2 separate regions of the Homo sapiens genome follow, and region 1 is linked to region 2. Evidence: fine-mapped expression QTL. A gene starts in region 2. The other region holds a variant in brackets. All regions are shown on one strand. Distances are from middle to middle. Region 1 overlaps IL1RAP (interleukin 1 receptor accessory protein). Region 2 holds the start of IL1RAP (interleukin 1 receptor accessory protein).

The links. PIP is the estimated chance that this variant, and not a neighbour inherited with it, causes the effect.
Region 1: its variant is fine-mapped to the expression of IL1RAP in whole blood (INTERVAL, PIP 0.97).

The regions. Positions count from the first base shown.
Region 1 is chr3:190,561,375-190,570,751 of GRCh38, reverse strand. IL1RAP (interleukin 1 receptor accessory protein) reads right to left here. Exons shown (of 12, transcript NM_002182.4): 3 at 6,399-6,463. The coding sequence starts at 6,462. Among named protein-coding and RNA genes, the nearest start is that of IL1RAP, 52 kb to the right of the region's middle. RefSeq lists an enhancer at 3,696-4,895. The variant G/C (reference allele first, on the strand shown) is at 3,772.
Region 2 is chr3:190,509,438-190,518,830 of GRCh38, reverse strand. IL1RAP (interleukin 1 receptor accessory protein) reads right to left here and starts at 4,746. Exons shown (of 12, transcript NM_002182.4): 1 at 4,612-4,746. RefSeq lists enhancers at 3,556-4,055, 4,056-4,557, 5,310-5,399 and a silencer at 4,810-5,159.

The DNA of each region.
Region 1 (9,377 bases), 52 kb before region 2:
TCTACAAAAAAATACAGAATTAGTTGGGCATGGTGGCAAATGCCTGTAATCCCAGCTACTAGGGAGGCTGAGGCAGGAGAATCACTTGAACTTGGGAGGTGGAGGTTGAGGTGAGCTGAGATCGCACCATTGCACTCCAGCCTGGCAACAAGAGCGAAGCTCCGTCTCAAAAAATAAATAAATAAATAAATAAATAAATATGAAAGTATCTCAGAAGTAAAAAAAAATGGGCTGATGGATAAGAGCCTTAAACTATTTCAGACCCTACAAACACTGCAGAAAAGTGCTATTTATTTCCCAGTAATGTATAGCTATACCAAGCATTTTGGTTCCTATGGTAGAAGGAGAAATGAATGTCATAAAACACAACAGAATATGGTCTAGGTTGCTGAGGAAGTGATTATTTTATTTATTTTCTCTCATTGTCGTAGTCATCTTGCATTTTCATTATTCCCACTATCTCTAAAACACGCAAAGGCAAAGCCAGAAAATTTTGTACATCAGCTTTTATAGGTTTGGATAGCAGGTAACTTGAAGGTGACTGAGGTTCCCAAATTATTTGTTAAATGTATCCATTTTCTCACTGTTCCTCAAAAATAAATGAGAGATGGCAGCACTCAGTGGATTTAAAAATAAAGCAATCATTGTGTTGTTATCCTGGGTGGGTATATATTTTATTTTCTAAAAAGTTAATCAGTTAAACAGAAAAGAAACTTTTTAAGTGGTGAAAGAAAAGTGGGTAGAAACTGGTCTTGGTAGTGAGTCACTGCTAAGGTGGCAATCTGGTCCCTAAAATATGGTAGAAATGAATATTCAGGGTTGGGGGAGTGAGGGAAAGGATAGCAAAAACAAAGGTAATTCAAAGGGTAGAATAAATTCTTGTAAAACAAACATTTTTTCCTACAACGGTATGCAGGAGTTCCTACAAAAATACTGGTTTCCTTTAACTAACACAGCCATGTGAAAAAGAACCAGGTCATTTTTCTAAACTTAGAATTATCACTGTGATACAAGAAGCTGTGTATTTGCAAACTCAGTATCAAGCCAATTATGTGGTACTTAAATTTCTTTTCAATCAGGCTACAGTAAATCCACCCTTGGGAAATATAAGTAACTAAAATATAAGTGTGCTTCAAGCTATAAACACAGCTAAAGAAAAAAAAAAAAGTGAAGAGATCTGCTTCCGAGAGGCATCATTTAAATGACAACAGGGTGAAATTCTGTAATTCCAATGACCTTTAGGACTAAGAATAAAATGAAACAGTATTCTTCATACATTTTCCAAATGTTTGGACTAAATTACATAGAAATGAAGAGTGTTCAGGATGACCAGCCATGGGCAACTGGGACAGGACACAATGTCACAAGTATATCTGAGCACGGAGTTATTAAAGCAAGGATATTCAAATAAAATGAGGCCACTGGGGCTGGTAACAAACTGAATTCTTACCAAAAGGTGAAAGAACCATCACATAGAATTAATAATAGTGTATGTCCTTGCAAAAATACGACAGAATTTAAAAAAAGGAAAAGAAACCTAGCCAACTATAACCAAAATACATTAAATGTGGACATTCTCTTTACCTGAAGTAATTCCCGTCCTGCATAATTTGTTCCCAACCTACCTTTCCAGCTTGGCTTCTAAATGCCTTTGCACTATCTTTTGAGTTGCCCTGAACTATTTCATTCCCAAATAAGAGATGCGTTTCTTCCTAGGAAGGAGCAATGATTAAGTCTTCCCCAATATCTCCTGATAGGATTGGTAACTTTCTCTGCTCTCACGGAATTCTATTTGGTAATTATTTCCTCTTCCTTCTCTCAAACTTTACTGTATTCCTCTTAAAATAAGAAATTCCTCTTACTAACCCTGGATTCTACAATCTAAAATGGTCAAACGCATGATCTTTAGAATAAAGTGAAATCATTGTTAACATTGTTATTAGAAAGAATTTAAGTAGCTAATAGGAGTATACCCTGTGTGTGTCCATGATGCATAGTGTTCCTTCATAAAAATCAAGAAACTGGAATTGACTGGGATCTGCTGCTATTGTTTGTTAATTGTTTGGTTGGTTGGCTTGGTTTATAAATAAGGATGCAATGACAAAAAGTGATGAAATGACCCCTTTACTGTCATCAAACAAGTCACAGAGTAAAACAGAACTTGAATCTCTCAATTACTAGGAAACCACAGTGTTTTTTACTATTTATTTATTTTGCATTGTATAATTCACTCCCAATCATTGGATAGATGATTTCCATTCTCTACCAATTTTGTAAAATATAATGGAAAAGGAATCAGAGGATCTTACTTCTAGTAGCAGAGCACAGTCCTAAAGAAAGGCAATTATAGTATGGAAAAATAAAAAAGAGCACTGTTTCTGGAGTCAAGGCAGCCTGGCTCTATCAGGCAAGCCAGGCTATCATGAGCACTTGGGCCACCTCCCTGGATCTTCATTTCCTAAACTATCAAACAGGTAGAAGAGTCTCCAGCCCCTACCCCTGTACAATGGTTCCTGCGAAGTTCCTGATAATGTGTGTGAAATCCAGCCCTGCACCTGGCACACAGTCAACTGTTGACTTTGAAATAAAATCTTTCTCAAAGATCCGTGTGTGTGCCTGCATTTTGGGGTGGCAGTGTACTCTCTTTTTCATGTGATTTGTCCAGCAAATAATTTTGATATGGTAATATTTTTTAAATTCACTATATTCTATATGGTGCTATTTTTATTACCTCCTCAACTTGGGATCACAGGTTCCAAAATTTATGTCTACTCCAAAGGCAGCTTTTAACAGTTCAGCTTCCTGACACACTGCCAATGAGGCACAGCAAAAGAGACGTGTATTGAGCTGAAGTTTCCATTTCGAAGTCTTACAAACAGAACTTCTTCGAGTTTATTAGTGAAAATATTTAATACTATAATAAGCAAAAAAAGGAATATTGGGTTTGAATTTTGTATTACAATCATTTTCCTCCTGAAGAAAATGTTTCAGTGCTGTGAGGGGGCAGGATAAGCGTGTAAGGATATACCTTACCTACAAAGCATAGAAACCTATCACAGAGTGGTTCTTCAACAGTTTGCAAAATGATTACCTGTGATCCCTTAGATCTTAATCTTTTTTCTTAGTAATTTATATTCTAATAGACCCCAACTGGAGCATATTTCGTAAAAATAATATGGATGTCAGGAATCCAGAAACTCGTTGAAGTCACAAGCATGCTAAGTATAGCTGTGTGACTTCGAGTAATACAATTAAATACTTTGATCCTAACTTGTCTTACCCAACAAAGGTAGTTACAACAGCTCTGACTACCCCATGGTTTGGGTGTGAGACTGACATTGAATATGTACAATGCAAACTGCTTTTTTAAGCAAAGGGAGCTTTATTATTATTACTATAACTAGCACATTATAATTATAGAATCGCTATTATAATTATCCAAGCTTTAATTCCTTAAAGGGAAATAAAGCTTTCTTAAAAAATCATTTGCTTTTATCATCACCTAAGATGAAAATGTTGCTCCCCCATTCCTGAGGGGATAAGGGGATCACAGTACTGCTACCAGAAAAATCATGATCGGAAGTCAGAATCGTATGACTTCACGGCCAGTTCACTGCGTGTGAAAACACATTGCATGGCGCTAAGTTCTTATGCTTTTATGGTTTCTTTTTTATATTTGAGGATTCTCTTAAAAGGCCCACATGGAAGGACTCAGAACAAAATAAATGTCTTACTAATATGATACGCATGTAGATTGCTTTAGGGTTTTCA[G/C]AACATTTCTGCTTTGTTCCTCACATCAACCTGTGTTTCCGTTGAGATGGGAACCTGAGCACAGGGAGAGCCTCATGAAAGACCAACAAATCTGTCAGCATCCACAGATGCCTTGTAAAAGGCAATACTTTCATGTGCAGAGAGGTTGGTTGATCCCTCAAGATGCGCAATGATTTCTTTCTTCCCCCACTAGCCCAGAGCCAGTTGCTCTTTTCGTTTTTGTCAACAACATGTCCTTTTTGTTCCTCTCCCTCCAACTAGGAAGTGGCATCACTGTCAGACACAATACACCTCTTCATAAGGAAGGCAAATGAGTACGTGCCAGATGGGCTGAGGGGATTACAACATGTTTCCTGCTCCCACGGTGACGCAATGTGGCTGGTATGAGAACTTATCTTATTCAAGAAGTTAGCTTCCCCTGGCAGAATTATGAGTCACAGTTCCTGGATAGAAAGCTCTCTTACCAACAGCACTTGAGGTGGGGGCTGGGGACTCCTTGGATGGATTACAGTAAAGGTCATTCAGAAAAGTAACATGGTCAGGACTGCTGGGAAGGCACCAGCACTCATTAGCTTCTGGAACCTCCATGATCCTTCAGCAATGGTAACACAGTCACCTGTCCCTCTTCCTTCAGGATGAGGGAGGACATAAAACCACATGATGAATTACTGGCATGAACCCAAACACGTTCCATTATAAAACTGGACAGTCTGGGGGCAGGGGAAAGGATGTAAAGGGACATGTATTCAACCATTTAACACCTATGTATTGAGCATCTGCTATGTGTCTATGTGTCAGTATTATTCTGAGTGTTTGGATAACAAACAAAAGTTCCTGAACAAGTTCCTGCCCTCAGGCAGCTTAAAATCCAAGACAGAGGGAGGGAAGGAGGAAGAAAAAGAGATGGAGAGAAAGGAAAGAAGGGAGGCAGAAAAGGAGGAAGGACAGGGAGTTCAGGAAGAAAAAAAGGAAGGAAAAGGAGGAGGAAACAAGAGAAGAGGAAGAGGGAGGAGGAGGAGAGAAGAGAAAGAAGGCTAATATAATATCAGGGAATGTGAGTGTTACAAAGAAAACTAAAACAGGATGGAGGGAGAGAGAGTGACTGGTAGGGATTTTTAGTTAAGATGGTCAAGGAAGCCTCTGTGAGCAGATAGCATTCAAACATAGAACTAAATCAAATAAGAACAAACTAAAATCAAGAATTATATTTAACATATTTGAAAATCAGGACATCAAGAAACTCACCTATCAAACGCGACACCTAACCAAGCAGGACAGATGCTGGACTAAACAGCCAAGGAGCTGTCTCCTAGCGCATCCCAGCCGAATAACATCTCCGGTTATCTACAGCCATTCCTCTGTGAAGCCCCAAAGGGCCAACAAGGCTAGAAGTTACTGCTAGTTTCAGCACTGAGCTGTACTCTGTCCTACTTATACCACTCCTTTAGTACTATTTTTGGTTTCTAATACAATGTTTTATGTGGCATAGAAAAGCTGAAACGCACCCAGAAAAGATGATCAGGATGGTAGGAGAGCTCAAATCCATGTCATATGAAAAACAGTTGAAGGCATATATTGCAGAACACTGAGGTCATGGTTATATGGTAGCTAACTTAACATTGCAGAAGCCCTCTCACAAAGAAAAGGAATTAAAGCAACGATATGTAAAGTATGGTTTATGGTGTTCAGGGGAATTTTACATGAAAAGCTTTATAAAATGAGGACCTCTAGGTTCCCTTCATTACAATTAGAGAACCATTGCATTAGGTTTTGGTTGTTTTGTTTGTTTGTTTGTTTGTTTCTTTTTTTTTTTTCAGTCCTACAGTTGAACCAAGTAAATGTTTGGAAAGAGACAAATTTCAGTTTTAGATACTAAAATCAAAGAGACAAATTTCAGTTTTATGTACTAAAAACTTTCTAAGAATTTGATTAGTCCAAAAACATAGGCTGAAATGTAATGATTAATAGTCAGAGATAGAGAGTGATTCTGGGCATAATTCTGGGAAGAAGAGGAGATCTGAAAAGATGGACTTTCAAATAGCAAGTCTCTTCCATATCTAATTTCACGTGATCCAGGCCCATGATGACTGAGTTTGGTTTTCAAACTCTATAAAGGTCTTAGCTGGTTCCTCTTATAAAGCAACATCCAGAGAAAGAATGAGTCTAAAGACAGATCCTTTCTTTTTCCTATATAGAAACAATATGACAAAAACTCATTATTTTATTTAACATCTCAATGGATTATTACCACTGATAACTTTTCCACCACTGGCTCAAATTTGAAAAACAGATTGTGCTATTATCACTCCCATTTTTCCCCCATAGGACCTGAGGTAAGGGAAAAAAGCAATATTCTAGTTGGCTGAGTGTGAAGGTAATGAAAAATACCTGTGTTTAAACACAGCGGCCCACTGCCCCCTGTGTACTCTATCCCATGAAGACTAGAGACAGCAATGGTTCTTTCCATCATCAAAATTCTATTATTCTGCTTTATGATTATTTGCTACCGCAGAAGACAATGGACATGAATAACATTATGTTTATTTAAATTCATTTTCAGGAAGAGTGGACTCATTACCCTACGCATGACTTGCATTTTAATACATTGTCAAAAGCCATTCACTTACCTGAGGCATCACTTTGCAGGATTCCATAAAAGTAGAGACTCACTACACACCACAGAAGTGTCATCCTGTAACCATAAATACAAAGGTAAGGGAAATCACTTACTACTTTCAAGGGCTTAAATAATAATAACTAGCATTCATGCCTGCTGACTATAGACTAGGGACTGTTCTAAGAATTTTACAATATTAACAAATTTCATTGTCAGAACCAACCAATAAGACAGGTTTTATTTTGTTTCTGTTTTTTTGTTGTTTGTTTTTCAATTCCCATATTACATGCAGATAAAGAAGTTTAATACACAGGTTTAAATAACATAACTAAGATCCTTTGGCTAGAGACAAGTTTCAATAACATCACCACGATCCTTTGGCTAGAGAGTGGTAGAGCTATGATCAAACTCCAGCTTTCTGGCTCCACAACTCTCTTTTTCACTGAACTATAACTGCCTACTTAAAAAATATTCATCTGGATTTTTTGACCAGGATTTACATTTCTGGCAGATAAATTCAACCTTCTTACCCCTCTTTGCATTCCCTTGGTCTATTTCTAGTTGGAATACTTTACAATCCAGGTACTTTTCCCTTTTAGTGACACATAGACACATAGAAAGTCTAGAAATCCTGGATTCAGACTTTGTCTGCAATCTACCATACTGTGAATTTATATTAAGGAAAATATATAAATCTAATTCCTGCTGTTCGTGCTCTCCTCTTCTCACTGGAAGACAGAAATGATGAGGGAGGAGTCAACTTTCTATGATCTTTCGCCTTCCTATTAATAACCAGCTGAAACAGCCAACTGCTGTGAACCATACCCTTACATTTGGTTGCATGATATTTAATGCTGAAGATGTGGAGATTTGACAGCTCTGTGAAGTATTTCTTTTTCTACTACCCAAGAAATATCTGGCCACTGGTAAAACCTCTGTGGGTTATAAATACTGAAACCTGAAGATGATGCAGAAATTCCATGCTCAAGAACTCTGCTTTCTGTGTCGAAGGTAACAGCCATATAAGAATGCTTGCAGAGGTCTTGATAACTTGTCCAGCTCATATTTCCAGTAAGTGACAAAGATGCTATTTATATCCACATTAGGCTAACTACAAAGATTATTATCTCAAATAGCCTATGCCACAAGTTTCACAACCACAGGTATGCAGCAGCTTAAACAGATCAAAGAGGTATTTGATAAATAAGATGACCATATAACATCATTTAAAATGGGCCAATTTTAAGAGCATTAAATTATAACAAAAGATATAAACTACACAAGGAATCCAAGAGGTGTGGCCACCCTAAAGGACTATGCAAGTTTCCAACTCCCGTCACCTCTCTTGACCACACCTCTCCAAAAATCTCTGGTTCATGCTTCCTTTTTTAGCCTGGTTGTACACAAATCACAGGTGAGCTCGTCATATCACAAGCTGTTGTTTCATCTGATAAATTAAATGATGTTTTCTTCCCAGCACCTCTTCCTTCCAGCTCTTATATTATGACCTTGGGGAAATCTTTTTCTCTCCATCAGTCTTTCATTTATTCAATAAAACATGTATTGAGCATTTTCTCCTTCTTTTCCAAATTTTTTAGTTTGTGTGTGTGTGTGGTTATGTAGCAGATGTGTGTGTGTGTGTGTGTGTGTGTGTGTGTGTGTGTGTGTGGACGAGATATGTTTTGATACAGGCAAGCAATGTGAAATAAGCACATCATGGAAAATGGAATATCCGTCCCCTCAAGGATTTATCCTTTGAGTTTCCAAGTTGCTATGATACAGCTACGAAGCCTCTCATGGGCAAAATGTAGGGTCTTCTCTAAAGGCACTTTTCCACAGTAAAGATGAACCCCCAGCAAGACACTTTAGTATCATCAACTATGTATAGAACACACATCTAGAGACACTTAAGAGATAAAAAGAGTTACCAGACAGAAATTCTAGCACTAGGCAGGGTCTAACAGAAACTTAAAATGTGCACCAAAAAAAAAACCCCCTGCAATATGAAGTAAAAAGTGATAAAAATAGAGAGGAACAGATAAGTGTTATTGAAGATTAGCAAAGGAAAGAGGTCACTCCAGCCAAGACAATAAAAGAAGACGAAACACAAGAGGTGACATTTGAACTGGTATGGATATTTAGACTTGAGACAGAAGGAACATGTGAGAAAAAGAAACTTTCAGTGGAGAATAATGCTCAAAGGTAGTGAAAGCATAGAACACAAATGGAAAATAGTATATAAAGAACTGAGTTTTGCTCAAGCACAAGGTTTTAGAAAAAGAACTACAGAAGATTTTGTTGGAAAGCAGACAGTGGTAGAATCATAATATGGCAAAGCCTTAAATAACAGGCCAAAGGCTTGGGATTTAAAGAGCAAATAGGGAGTCACCAAAGTTTTCTGAGTAGGGGAGCAACATGACCCTCAAATTGTACTTTATAGAGCACTGCCAGGCGCGTATTAGATAGATGGCTGCTAAATTCTGTCTTGAAGTCATTTTGGCTCCTGAATCTGTTATCACAATAATTGCTATCTTCCTAGCTTTGTGACATCTACAGACTTGATCAGCATGCAACCTATATCTTCATCCAAGTCATTAATAAATGTAATTAATAATTCTGCATTAAACTTGCCAGCAAAGAGCAACTAGAGATTTCACTGCATTCAGGGAACCGTAATTTCAGCCCCACTTCTCAGCTATGCTAAAGCAATACGCCCTCCCAAATTGCTGTCAGCTATTTAAAAACCCCCACATACCTCTAGATTTTCCCAGTTTGCCTGTTTATAAGCTGCTGAATTCCTAAGGCAACATTTATAAGACATTCTAATTAGTGTGATTGAGGGCCTTAATTGATATTCCCAAGAGTAACTGGATTATGCTGAAGGCAGCAAAGAGTCAGGTCACCAAGGCAAAGCTAATCTAAAGATAACCTGTCTGCGAACACACATCCAGGGCCAGTCCTGCCCTGTGATGAATTAGAATAAAGCAGA
Region 2 (9,393 bases):
GGAGATGATTGAATCATGTGGGGTAGGTCTGTCCCATGCTATTCTCGTGATAGTGAATGGGTCTCACAAGATCAGATAGTTTTCAAAATGAGAGTTTCTCTGCACAAGTTCTCTTTTTTGGCCTGCTGCCATCCACGTAAGATGTGACTTGCTCCTCCTTGACTTCCGCCATGATTGTCAGGCCTCCCCAGCCATGTGGAACTATAAGTCCAATGAACCTCTTTCTTTTGCAAACTGCCCAGTCTTGGGTCTGTCTTTATCAGCAGCATGAACACAGACTAATACATAGGCCATGCTACGTAACTCTATGAGCCTCGGTTTCCTAAAAAAATATACAGGATTATTGTGAGGATTGAATGAGATGATATATTTAAGATACTCAGCACAAATAATGATGGAGACAAGTAAAGAGTACCTGTTAAATTATGATGATCGTAATTTAACAGACTAATACATTGAAGGAGTTGTTAGCAGAGGACAGAATCAGTGTTTATTAAATGTTTTCTATGAATAAGATGTTGAAATAAATAGGGACTTAAGCTTCTAAGCAGGCATCAGTGTCCCTATTTCCTAGCTGCAGAGCCAAAAGATCATCTCTATAGAATAACTTGCCTCAGATTTCAGCCAGACTCTCAAAATCCACACTACCACAGCTGCTACAGAGAGTTAGAATAAAGTCAGACCAAAGGGATGTCTCCTAACAACCCTATCAGTGTAAACCATGCATTATCATTTAAAAAAAAAAAAAAGGCAGCAAATGAATGGCTAACCTGAATTTATCCACCGAAATATCACTTACCAAATGTTCTGTAACCTTCCTATTCTTTGGTGTTTCTTTTTTCTTTTCTTCTTCTTTTTTTTCCATGCAGAACAATTTCCAAAATGGGCAAAGAGCACAGTAGGTGGCTCTCTTTAATATTTCATGGGCAAGGCAACAGTGACTCACCAGATCCTACATCTGTGTCACCAGCAAAAGCCTGATGAAGTTGAGCAACAAATGAAGCTGTGTATAGGCTGGAGATAATCTTTGTTTTTTTCTACGTCCTCTGATTTCCTCAAGCCACATTCTGCTTTCCTAACCGTGCCAGGTAAGATGATGCTAACTGCTTACCTATAGGAGCAAACATATGCTCCAAAATGCCAAAAGCAAGGAGCAAAATGTTCCTTCTACATCTGCGTTTGCAAGCCTGTGTGCTTGCTACAAAGAAGAGAAATCTAATGGCCTATGAGAAGTCTCAGCAGATGAACAGCCCCACTGCCTGGGCCAGAAACAGATCCCTTCATCTTCCAACATGAGCCTCCAGCCATCACTTTCCACAAGGAGGAGTGAAACTCCAGACAAGTAATCAGCACCACCAGGAAGCAGTGGTCTCTTTCTGCAAATGCCACCTTTGCACATTATTCTGTCTACTCTACTCAGTACCCACAAAATTGTCAAAAAAAAAAGTTGAATAATGCCATGGACACTCATAACATTTGTTGTTCAATCTTCTTCCCAGCCTTTGAACTAGCATGAGGATGGCAGAGGGAAGAAACCACTCACAACAGGAAGAAAAGAGTGATATAATTCTGTACTTTATGTCTTCTTAGTTAGTACCCTTTCTCTTAGGAATCAAAGGTGTATTACATCCAACACAGGAGAGTAGGAAGGTTGTCTTAGAGACCATTGCTTTAAATACCCTCTTATGACAGTTGGCTCCACTAAACTCTACAGAACTGTGCTTAAGGATTGTTCTCTTTGCAAGAAAATACCTGCTTTTCAACAAAAAGGATATCCTGAAATAACCAGACAAATAAGGTCAACTTTATAACTGAAGTAAATTGTTAAATATCTCATTGGCGAGGAAACAGAGTGTGATGGGAAATGCCCTAAACTAGACATGAAAAGGTGTGAACTGTATTCCCAGAGTTGAAACATACTAACACATGACCTCTAGCAACTTTTCATTTCTCTGAGTCTCATTCCAGTTATGTTCTAAATAAATTGAGACTAGCTAAGAAGAGATATCATTTAATGAGCACCTATTCACTACATGTACTTGACATTATTCTATTGAATTTATTCGTTATACAGATTTTTAAAGTAAGCATTTTTTTTTTCCATTTTAGAACTGGATAAAACAGAAACTTCAAATGATTAAATAAACTGCTCAATATCACCCAACTACTCAGGCATGAGAGCTGGAATTTGAAATCAAGTAGGTCTGACCACAAAACCTGGGCTCCTTCCTCTATTAATATTCTTGCCATGTCCTCCCAGGGCTATTGTGAGTAACAAGGAGTATCATATATACAGAATGCACTTTGGAAATTTTAAAGTTCTATACATATATATGGTTTTGGTAACAAGTAATAATCTGTATGAAGATATGGGTATAATTGACCAACCTTTCTTTGAAGAATCAGAACCAAAGGAATTAGCTTTTAATCTCCCTTCCATCCTCATGATCTGACCTTATTTTGAACATTTTCCTTTTCCCCCACAAGGCCCCTGTCTCTCAGGCACACATTCAGTCATATCCCAGCCAGCTCACCACAATGCATGTACATGGAACAAGCTGATAGAAGCAGGTGATCCCATCCTTTACTAATGCTTGGTGCGGGAGGTACTTAAGTGGGCACCACTGGGCTCTTATCTTCCATCAAGATGTATCACACTCTGTTCTCAAGCACTTACCAATACTGCATACAAATGCTATGGCCTGTGAAGGAGGCAGCCAACTACAAATGCTGGACACTCAATTTAAGGACGCATGGCAAAGCCAGTAGATAGTAGTAAATTATTGCATGAAGTTCATCAGAATAAAATCAATTGTCATGAGAAGGGTTAAGGGTGTGGGAGGGAATCCATTTAACTTTAAAATACCAATAATACAGGAAGACTAGTGTGGGCATGTGAATGTCTGTGTGTTCGTGTTTAAATAAGGCAAGTTTGTGTCCAGAAAGGTTTGCATTTAGCAGCATCTCTGTACAATCCAAAAGAAATATATGAGAATTTTGTTTGTTTTCTGATACTAGATGAAAAATGTAAGGTTGCTCGACTGACCTAAGAGAGCAAGGATAGAAGGCTTAGAATAATCTGTAACACAGCTGCAACTTCCAACTTTGTCTTCTTGTCTTTCTGCCTCTCACCCATTTCAAGACCCTCTTTGTCAATAAAGGATGTCTCAGATCAGGGCAGTTCACAGGCCTGAGGTTTGACCTAAAAACTAGTAGGAAATTCATATCACCGAGAAACATCAATTTTACATTTCGAGCTAAGCATCCATGATCCACATCACATATGGACAACATTCAGAAAATTCTTATTATAAAAGAGTTGCTCAAATTCAAAAGAAGAAAGACACCACATTTACAGATTTTTTTAAAATGCCTCTGTAAGATGGTATGAAATCACCTTTCTGAAAACCCACTGTCTGCAAGGTTACTATGTAACAATATTTACAATAGTTGCCATTGGTTTTGAACCAACCAGATGCCAGGCCAGGCACTGTGCTAAACATGCTACTTGAATGATCCCATTTCATCCTTCCAACTACCCAAAGGGCTCATTGTGACCATTATAAATCTCCATTTTTTGGCTGGAAAAAAAAAAAAGGAAGAAAGAAAGAAAAGAAAAACCCAGTATCGGAAAGGTGAGATAACTTGCCCAAGTTCACACTGCTAATACATGGAAGAGCTGGAGTCAAAACTCAAGTCCTCTTTCTCATCCAGTAGCTAAACCAGGGATCTGTACAGCAGAGCAGCAGAATGCTTCGCGTGGCGCCCTGGTTCACAATTTCACAACCAGAAGGTGGAGGGAAGACAGGCTGTGGGCTAGCTCTTAAAGGAAACAGCCGAAGTTTGCTTTTATGTTTGTGATTTTCTCTTTAACTCAGCTTCCTTGCTCCCTCTCAGTATTTAGAAGAGGGAAGGGGCTCTATGGTTCCATGAAGTCAGCTCTTCCCAAGTGAGGGGCACCCTGTGCCCCACAGGGCCACTAGCTCCGCTTCCTCCGGGGCTGGGAAGAAACAGTACCATAGGAGGTCACTGGCGCCCGGGCCTCGCTCCTCTCTCCCCGCGCTCCTCCAGAAGCTGGTCCGACACCCTCTGAAGGGGCATCTTTCTGAGAAAGCAGGTCAGGGGAAGAGGGAGTGAGGCTGCAAGCAGCATTTTCCCAGGCTGTCACAGCTCTGCGCTGAGAGCGACGTGATACCGAGTGGGCGTGCTGGGACACACCGCTTCCTTCTGTCCTCGGCGCTTCCAGCAGCGGTCTGGAGAAACCAAGGAGGAGATGGGGGCGGGGGGTGGTAGCGGGGAGGGGGCGGTGAGGAGGAAAACAAGGGTAGACCCCTCAAAGGGCTGAGGATGGGGGCGGCAACGAGCAGACGTCCCACAACCGCGTTACTTAAATCCCTGCAAAGCAAAGATGGGTCTCTGAACGTTTGGGTTCGAATCCGGGCTCCAGTCCTAACTAGCAGTATGACCTATCCCAGCCGCTGCCTCGTTCTGTGCCTCAGTTTCCTCTTCTGTAAAGTAGGAGGGTTTAACGATAGGATCTCTAAGAATCCGTCTACCCTGAGATTCTGCGGCTTGGTGACTTCTGAGCCCTCACGGCGGCGCGAGACTCACCTTTCTTGGGAAGCTGAGAGGGCGCAGCAAAAGCAGCCGGGATGGGTGCAGTGTCGCCGGGCACTGCTTCCTTCCGCGCCTCTGGCCAAAGCGGACCCCGGAGACCTGGATCCCGGCAGTCTTCCCCAGTGAGCCTCTTACTTTCCGCCGCACTTTCTTTTCCCCCTTTGGGGCTCCTCCCCCGGAGCGGCGCGATTGGCCACGGCCTCACGGCTCAGGCTCCACCCGCCGCCTTGGCTCGCGATCCACCGGCGCTCTGGGCTTCCAGGAGCTGCGGCCGCGGGGCGGCGTCCTGGACGGTCCCGCCCGCCGCCAGGAGGCGCGGCGCCGGGCCCGCCTGCGGACGGATGCAAGGCTGCGCTCGGCCCCTTCGGCTCCCTGCCACCGCCTGTGCGGGCTTGAGCGCGCGGGGAAAGGAGAGGGTTAGTCCTGCAGCGCAGCTCGGCACGCTGCCAGGCGCTGTGGGAAGCTACGCCCCTCACTACACACCGAGGCGCACACATGCGCTCATTGCAAGATCGTGCTCTCGCAGTTGAGATCGGTGCCACCCTGCCCTTTCTTCCTGTCTCGACGTATTTAGCAATCATGCTGCAAGGCCTTGAATCAATTCAGACTGCACGATTTTCGCAACCACCCTGTGCCGGCACAGAGCGCGGCAGGATGTAGATGCGATCTCCGCAGTCCTGAGCTCTTGCTGTCTTGAACTGACATTCATATGAGCAAGCAACAGGACATGACAGCAAGACTAAATCTGTATTGTCCACTGGTAATATACCCATTGCCTAGCACAGTGCCTGGCACAAAGTAGGCACTCAATACATGTATGGGGAACGAATAAAAGAACTAATAGGTTACATAGAAGGAAATAATCTCAAAACAAATATTTGCCTTCATTCATTTCCATTTCCCCAAGTTTTTGCAAGAGCCTTCCTTCAGCTGCCCTCTGCCACTGTAGATGGTAGTCTGTAATATATCCCGGGAAGCGTTATAAAGGCTTTCATTAAGTCATCTCTCTTGTTCAGGCACCTTCTGCTGTGTTCCTACTGCTAGTGCCTCATGATTTTTCCTGACTGGCAAGGCCCTTCATGACCTGTCCCCATTTCTGAAACCCCCTAACCAAAGCCACCTACCAGACTGACGAGTCTTCGCACATCTTCTTGCTCATCACATCTTCTTTTCTCCTCCTCCTACCTAACTGAATCCTACTAATTTATTTTCAAGAATCAAGATTCAGAGAAAGCATTTAAGGAAAAGGAGAAAAAAGATGTGAAATAAGAAAAGGGCCCAGGTGAGTGGGAAGGAAATGAAACCAGCAGGTGCCCGTGCTGCTAAAGGTGCACAGCAGTACGAAACTCAGAGGCTGCCCCTGCCCTGGCGGAGCTTCAGTTCCTAAGGTGAAATATCAGTGTAATTGGAGCCATAGAAATGTTCATGATACTTTACTTCTTGACATCACTTATGAAAATTAATTGCTCAAAATTTTTATTTATCTCAGGATACCTGGGACCCAGCACCTGCTCACAACATTGTCACTGAACCAAAGAGAAAATAATCCAAAAGAATTTAAAATGTTACCTGTATGAAGCAACAATAAAACATTTTCTGATTTATTATTCATTCCTTAAATATATTCTGGGCACAGACTTTTATATATATATAGTACACTGAAGCATTTACACAGTGCTTACAAAATAAAAAGGTGCAATCATAAGGACTTTGTGTATATTAATTCAGGTAACCCTCAATACAACCTGGAGGGTGCTATTATTATCTCCAGTTCATAAAGGAGATAAAGGGAATTTAAATAACTTGACCAAGGCTACAGGCCTACAAGTGGAGAATACAAAATGAGACTAGAGACACTCGACGTTCATGCTCTCAGCCGCTACTCAGTCTCATGTACTACCTAGAAGCCAAACAGATGCTAGTAATTCAGAATTGAACCAGATGTATATTCCCGGACATTGAAGGGCTACTCATAGCTTAAGGAAGATAACATTAAGATGAATAATCATATAGACAAATATTCATAGTATATTGTAGTTTGAACACAATATAAATGGTTGGAAATGAAAATGATTAGTTAACCAACGCTGTCTACGCACAGAATAAAATATTTGCATCATAACTATCATATTATGGAAATATGTCTACAAAGAAAAAGGCTTACAAAATAAGGTTGAGTAAAAGTTGTGGAGAGATGAACACCAATTGAAAGGAATGTGAAAAAATGTTGATATGTTAGGATTACAGAAATAGAAACATCTCTTTTTCCTTTTACATTTAAGTGAAATAAACCAAGCACAGAAAGACAAATTTTGCAAATTCTCACTCACACGTGGGAGCTAAAAATTAAACAAAGGAACTGAGATATGAGAGTAGAATGATGGTTACCAGAGGCTGGGAAGAGTAGCAGAGGCAAGGGAGTTGTGGGGAAGGGAGGATGGTTAACGGTTGCAAAAATATAATTAGCTGGAATGTATAAGACCCAGCACTTGATAGCACAACAGAGTGACTACAGTCAACAATAATTAATTATGCATTTTAAAATAAGTAAGAGTGAAATTGGAATGTTCCTCAAAGAAGTGACAAATGGTCAAGGTGATGACACCCTGTTGTCATTACCCTGATGTGATTATTACACATTGTATGCATGTATCAAAACATCACATGTCACCCATACATATATACACCTATTATGTACCCGTAATAATTAAAAATGAAAAAATGTTATGCTAACAATTGAGAAAAATATTTTAAAGCTATACCCATTAAATATCCATCACATACTAAACATTTGATGAATAATAGTTGCCTAAATGAATAAATGAAGCTACAAATTCATTGATGTCAGTGACTAATACTGCTGGATGTATAGAAGATGCACAATAAAATATTTTGCAATTGATTGATGTATTTGGAAAGGTATTATTATTCTCTTCTTCTCCCAGCTTTTACCCTCCACCTTTTTTTTAGGTTATCTTTAATTATCTTGCTGTAGCTGTAAGACGCATCAGGAGTTTGCTAGTCTCTTGAACCCAATCCATTCAGACATTTATCTCTACCACTCCACAGTCAGCATCTGTAATGATCTTCACTTTGCCAAATGTGGTGATCAATTCTCTGTCTTCATTGTACATGTATCAGCAGCATTAGACACAGATAATCTGTTGCTCTTTCACACTCTCTCGTACTTGACTCTTTGTTTTTCATGTATTTCATCTGCTGTTCCTTATCAGATTCTTATTGAATCCTCTACCTCTTCATGATCTCTGAAGGTTCCAGTGTCCTAGAGCTCAATCCTTGAAGTGGTTATATTCTCTACCTAGGGGAACTCAGACAGACACATGGCCTTCTAAAATATCAATATGATAATAACTTGCAAATCTAAATCTAAAGCCCAAACCAGACTTTGTATACCATATTACCTCCTTCATATCTCCTTCTTGGATGTTTTAAATACATCTCAAACTTTACATGTTCAAATTCAAACTTTATTTCTGCCCCACACCAAACCAGAGCTTTGTAAGCAACACTGTCTTTTACCCAGTTGCTCAGGTCAAAAAGTTGGAGTTATCACTCTCTCTCATTGCCTGTACACATTATATCCACAAACCTTCTGCTTCCTCTACATTCAAAACACATCTCAAATCCAACCACGCTATTCCTCTTCTCCATCACAACCACCATGGTTCAAGTCATTGCCATCTCTCCCCTCACTGGTGTCCCTGCTTAAACTCTTACCCAAAGAGTCTATTGCCCTTACTTCAGAGACCCTTATAAATGAAAATAGAATAAATACAGGCTAGTGATTGAGGTCAAGGAATCTGAAGCCCGACTACCTGGGATCAAGTTTACATAATGTGGTCAAGTTACTTAATTTCTTTTTTTCACAGTTTTATTCTCTGAAAAATATGAATAACAATGACAATAATATACATTATAGTGCTGTTTTTAAATTAAATGAGATTATATAAGTAAAACACTTGGCATGGGGATTGGCATGTAGAAATGCAATATAAATATTCATTATTCTTTTACAAGAAATATGTCATTCTCTGCTTTCAAATAGTGATTTCTTATCATGATCAGATAAATTTCCATAGTCATTTATGGCCTAAAAGTCCTTGTGTGGCCCTACATGATCCAGCACTGAGTTGCTTCTTTCAATCTCCCATAGCATGCTCCTTGCTGTCGACCAAACACACTAACATGTTCCCATACTAGGGTGTTTGCACCTGCTGTTCCCCCTTGCTGGACCGCTGTTCCCCTGTTGCTTGTTCTCTCCTCTTACTCACATCTTCATTAATGTCCCTGCTCCACTATAACCTTCCCAGCAAAGCTTTTCCTGACAACCAAGTCAAATAATACATTACGTAACATTTTAATTAATTTACTTATTGAATGCTGTTTTCACTAGAATGCTAACTCCGGGAGGGTAATATAATGTTTCCCTGGCAAACAGACAATATTTTGCACGTAGTACTCATTGAATAAACATTTGTTGAGTTACAATTCAGTCCAAAACTCTCATGGTTAAACTTTGATACAAAGATATTAAGTGACTTATATATCGCCCTCTTCCTTTGATTTACATTTTTTTGGGAGATCAGAATCATTGGAAGACAAAAACTAAAACAACAAATTATATATATATATATGTGTGTGTGTGTGTGTGTGTCTATATATATACGTATATATGTTTAATATATATACATATATATACGTATATATATATACACGTATATATATGTGTATATATTTGGCTGGGTACAGAGTAAA